2 separate regions of the Homo sapiens genome follow, and region 1 is linked to region 2. Evidence: fine-mapped expression QTL. A gene starts in region 2. The other region holds a variant in brackets. All regions are shown on one strand. Distances are from middle to middle.

Evidence for each region. PIP is the estimated chance that this variant, and not a neighbour inherited with it, causes the effect.
Region 1: its variant is fine-mapped to the expression of TM4SF20 in fibroblasts (GTEx, PIP above 0.99).

Annotation. Positions count from the first base shown.
Region 1 is chr2:227,420,311-227,423,233 of GRCh38, forward strand. No RefSeq gene overlaps it. Among named protein-coding and RNA genes, the nearest start is that of SCYGR1, 34 kb to the left of the region's middle. The variant C/T (reference allele first, on the strand shown) is at 1,803.
Region 2 is chr2:227,378,144-227,381,066 of GRCh38, forward strand. TM4SF20 (transmembrane 4 L six family member 20) reads right to left here and starts at 1,163. Exons shown (of 4, transcript NM_024795.4): 1 at 943-1,163. The coding sequence starts at 1,125.

The sequences.
Region 1 (2,923 bases), 42 kb after region 2:
CCTTCTGTACTCTGCTTTGTGATTCGGGGGCTGGGCCTCTGCAAACCCCATTTTCGCTTTGGAGCTGGCTCCCTCTGAAGCTCTTCCCATCTTCCCATGGGGAGATGCAAGAGAGAGACCGCACAGCCGGAGGAGGAGGAAGCCCCTCTTCTTTCCTGACCACTTTCTGCTCCTGTGAATGGCACCCAGGCAATGCTTCATTAAGAAGTGAAATGAGCATTAACCATTTCATGCTCAGCAGTAGCACCAGTTCCTTCCCGAGTCCACCACTGAAGCCAGTCTGCAATATTTTCAATGCTTGTAGAACTGGTCCCCTCACAGCCCCTCGCAGACCTCAGCTGGAACGTACAGTAGCCCTCCTTAAGAATCTGGTGCTCAGCTCCACACGGCTCTTCCTCCAAACATCTAAGCTTTAATAGTTTGAGCCTCTTCCTTTCGCTCCCCAATTCCCACTGCTTCCTCTAGTTTCTACCTCCAGGGTAGTTTTGCGTTATCTTTTTGCCATTTATGTTACCTAGCGCATTTTATGTTATCAGCAAATTTATGCTTAGTTAACAATTAAATCCTCTCTATTCAAACAACTCATGCTTTTTTTTTTTTTTTGAGACGGAGTCTCTCTGTCACCCAGACTGGAGTGCAGTGGTGCTATCTTGGCTCACTGCAACCTCCACCTTCCAGGTTCAAGCTATTCTCCTGTCTCACCCTCCCGAGTAGCTGGGACTACAGGCGCCCACCATGTCTGGCTAATTTTTGCATATATTTATTTTTAGTAGAGACGGGTTTTCACCATGTTGGCCAGACTGGTCTCCAACTCCTGACCACAACTCATCTGCCCTCCTCCGCCTCCCAAAGTGCTGGGATTACAAGGATGAGCCACAGCGACGGGCCAACTGTTGCATTTTCTATCTCCTTATTGGACCGTGATTGACACATACCTAAAGTTTCCTCTGTTTATTCATTCAGGAAATACGTAATGAGTTCCCACTGTGTGCCAAGCACTGTACTGAGTGCCAGGTCACAGGGAGGAGGGAAAGACAATAACCAATAGAATAGAATCTCTCCACACACCTCCACTTACCAGAGGGAGAGATTTAAATTCTCAATCTGGGCTGGGCGCGGTGGCTTACACCTGTAATCCCAGCACTTTGGGAGGCCAAGGCGGGCAGATCACCTGAGGTCAGGAGTTCGAGACCAGCCTGGCCAACATGGCAAACCCCCGTCTCTACTAAAAATACAAAAATTAGCCGGGTTTGGTGGCGGTAGTGCCATTGTACTCCAGCCTGGTAGACAGAGCGAGACTCCATCTCAAAAATAAATAAATAAATAAATAAATAAATAAATAAATAAATAAATAAACAAACTAACTCTCAATCTGTAATATAAATGGTTAATGCTCATTTGGCGTTTTGTTTTGTTTTGTTTTAGATGGAGTTTTAATCTTGTTGACCAGGCTGGAGTGCAATGGTGAGATCTTGGCTCACTGCAACCTCCTCCTCCTGGCTTCAAGTGATTCTCCTGCTTCAGCCTCCCAAGTAGCTGGGATTACAAGCGCCCACCACCACGTCTAGCCAATTTTTGTGTTTTTAGTAGAGATGAGGTTTCACCATGTTGGCCAGGCTGGTCTCAAACTCCTGACCTCAGGTGATCTGCCCGCCTCAGCCTCCCAAAGTGCTGGGATTACAGGCGTGACCCACCGCACCCAGCCTCATTTTGCTTCTTAATGAACTTATAGTATTGAAGTAGCCAGTGCTTCCCATTCCATCATAAAACCCAGCGATGGATGCTCCTATGTTGGAGCCCCT[C/T]GCCAAGGTGAGACTCACACTAACCAAGAGTCAGTTGTGTTTGTCCCCAGTCCTGTGTATGACATTTTTATTTATATTTCTGATTGCATTATTCAATGAAATAGTATGTAAACCAATAAAATGTGAGTGATAAAAGGATGAGCATTATTTTTTATAAAAACTTAATTATAGGAAGGTTCCTATCAACAGTAATGCAAGTAGATACCAGGTGGCTGAGAAGGGCACTTCACCTATCTTGTATTCTGTCCCCAAGCCCATAACTCCAGTCTAATCTGGAAAAAATTTCAGATAAACCTATATTGGGAGACAGTCTATAGGATACCTGGCCAGGATGTCTCAAGACTATCAAGGTCATGAAAAACAAGGAAAGACTGAGAAACTGTCACAGACCAGAAGAGACTGGGCAGATATGACAACTACATGTGAGGAGAAACCTTGGATTGGATCCTGAGGCAGACAGATAACAATGACAAAGGTGGCAAAGGCTGGGCACGGTGGCTCATGCCTGTGGTCCCAGCACTTTGGGAGGCCGAGGCAGGCAGATCACCTGAGGTCAGGAGTGTGAGACCAGCCTGGTCAACATGATGAAACCCTATCTCTACTAAAAATACAAAAATTAGCTGAGCATGGTGGTGGGCACCTGTAATCCCAGCTACTCGGGAGGCTGAGGCAGAAGAATCGCTTGAACCAGGGAGGCGGAAGTTGCAGTGAGCCAAGATCACACCACTGCACTCCAGCCTGGCAACAGAGTGAGATTCCATCTCAGAAAAAGAGAAAAAACAAAAGAAAAAAAAAACGGTGGTAAAATACTAATGAAGTCTAGAGTTTAGTTAATGATAATGTGCCATTGTTGGTTTCTTAGTTTTGACGAATGTACCAGAGTAACGTAGGTGTTAATAATTGGGAGGATTAGGTGACGGGTATTCAGGGACTCTCTGTACTATCTTTGCAATTTATCTGTAAATCTAAAATTACTGCAAAATGAGATGTTTGTTTTTAAAAAACTAAATTACATGCCTCAGAAGATTTGATAATAATGGATTGCTTTTAAACAATGCTGTTAAATTAGGCATGGGCACGACCTAACTGTAAAGGATAAGAACAATTTTTGAAATTTTGCT
Region 2 (2,923 bases):
TAGTGGCATAACAAACAAAAACAAGCCTCTTGGATGCTGAATTATCAACTTCAACATCCACATCCCCATTTTACACATATGGAAACAAAACCATAGGATAAATGATTTGCTTGCAGTGGTATATGGGAGGCAGAACCATAGCTGAGGTATTCTGCCATATTTGAAAGCCGTTTTCCCTATACAAATGCGTCCTACCCAGGCCTACTGCACCCAGAATTCTCAGGAGAAAATCCGTAAATCTAACTATTGCAAGTGCCTCGGGTGATTCATGTCAGTTATATTTAGGAGTTCCATCCTGCACTGCTCTGCTGCAGATTTCAACAGAGGTAGACCTAGTAACAATCACCAAACTATTCAACAAGCTCGATGTCCTAGGATCTATATAATAGCTGAGTCAAAAATTCCTTGAGGCCAGAGACCCAGGATTTTAAGTCCATGTCTCTTAGCCCAACTCCCTTCAGGTACAGGCAATGCAGCATTCATGCCTCGTAATTACCATCACCCAGGCTAGTCATCATACATGGGAATGTTTCTACTCATCCCTATTAAGCAACCTGTCACTCCTATTGCATTTTCTGTAAATACTTAGAGACTGGTATGGAGCAATGGAAAGTTGAAGGAATTAATTCAGAAGGTCCCTAACTCTAACCACAAAGCTTGAAAGAGCAGCCCTACCTGTACAGAAATGTGAGAGATAATAACCCAGCCAACTTCTACTAATTAATTTATTTTTTTGCCCAGCTCTCTATCCTATACCACATAGTGTACTTTATTTAAATTACCATTCTTCACTGATGACCAATATAAATTAATGCCATACTACTGCTCCAAATTTTATCATAAGCCAAGACATAGTTAACTGCAAGACTGGAAGACAGCTTTTAGGATTTTGGTGAAATAGGCAGGCCCTTCTTCACATCAAGTCAAATAAATATCACTCACCATCAGACCTGCTCCTATAATTCCTGGGAACCACCACTCAAAGCAAGAGATGGGGTTTTGAGAAAATTGGTCTTCCTCAACTAAGCTGACAATTAGAGGTATCGCATTGAGAACTACTCCTAACAGCAGTAGAACCAGCAGGCTGAATCCATTGCAGGATGTCCATCCTTCGCAGCAGGTCATGGTCACCCCTGGCTCAGAAACGTTGTCAAAGTGGCTATGCTTGCATGGTACTATGTTGCCTTTTATCCCAATCTTCTGGTTAAAATTTAACGCTAATAAAAAATGAATAGTGGAAAATAGTTCAGAGTCCAATAGGGTAGGACATTATTATGATGACTATGATGGGAAATGAGAAAATAATTCCATATTATGATGAGGTGAAGGAAGGAAAGCAGAAAAAAAAATCTATGAGATAAATTTATGTAAGAAGATAGGCTTACGATAAGCTCCTTTAATATACTCCTTTATTAGTATGGCTTCTAAAAAGTAAAAACAAAAATATCCAGCTAAACTATATTTTCCTGTTCTATCGATATTATTACCAGCTATGGAAGTTTCTTATTTTGAAATTGTTCAACAAGAAAATGAACACGTATGAGATGTGGAGAAAGGTATTTCCTCTGCTGCAAATATTAGAGTTTATTTCAAGCCGTATGCTCACATACACAAAAGAAAATGTTTATGTCATATTATTCCAGTGTTGCAGACTAACCCATTTAGAGATAGCCCACCTAAGACATGTGAGAGCTTTGGCTAATGCTACCAGACTGAAAGATAGCAATAGGAGAGAGATTGGATGAGGAGATTATCATATTTTATTTAAGCCCTTGAACACTTACTTGGCCATGTGCAGTACTTTACATCTCTAGACTGTGGTTCCACATTGCCTCTCCACTAGCTGGTGAGCTCCTTGAGAAAAGACTATCAGTTGGCATAAGCTTTAAAATACAAAAGTTCTGGCCAGCTGCGGTGGCTCACGCCTGTAATCTCAGTGCTTTGGGAGGCCAAAGCGAGAGGATCACCTGAGGTCAGGAGTTCGAGATCAGTCTGGCCAACATGGCAAAACCCTCATCTGTACCAAAAAAACAAAAAGTAGCCAAGCGTGGTGGCACATACCTGTGATCCCAGCTACTTGGGAGGCTGAGGCCAGAGAATCACTTGAACCTGGGGGGTGGAGGTTGCCATGAGCTGAGATTGCACCACTGCACCCCAGCCTGGGCGACAGAGGGAGACTCCATCTCAAAAAACAAAAACAATACAAAAGTTCTTGCTTATGCTGACTGACCATCCTGATCTAAATGGGGTCATGGTAGTTACTGAAAGACCTAGACTTAGACCTAGACCTAGACTGGCAGAGGCAGCTTCTTGATCCAGGCTTCCACAGTCACAGAGGCAGGGTACAAAAATGTGGTGAGCCACATACTGGATCTATATGTTTCTGCCCAGAAGCGACCCACATCACTTCTGTTCACATTTCATTGGCCAAAAAAGTCACTCAGTTATGCATGAGTTCAAGTGGGTGGAAATACAAACCAATATGTCTAGGAGAAAAGATTGGGACATTAGGCAGCTCTAATCTCTACAGCGCCTTCCTTCTGCTTCTGTGTAATCCCCCGCTCAGCCCAGAGCATAGATTCAGTGAGTGCTGTTGGGAATGGTGAAATAATGTATGCAGCGGTGCAGTCAGTGTGGGCCAAAAGCTCAGGCGTAGTAGGCTTAGAGAGCAGCGCTCCACCCTGCAGCAGTGTGGGGGGCGCACACAGCCTGGTACAAGGGGCATCCCTGGTAATGGACACCAAAACAGTAGCTCCAGACTAGGGGGTCCAGTTACTGGACCTCAGTGAAATGTGAAATCCTTTGTATGAAAGGATTTGTATAAAAGGATTAAAAATAACCCACCTATTGGCTGGGCATGGTGGCTCACCCCTGTAATCCCAGCACTTTGGGAGGGCGAGGTGGGAGGATCACTTGAGCCCAG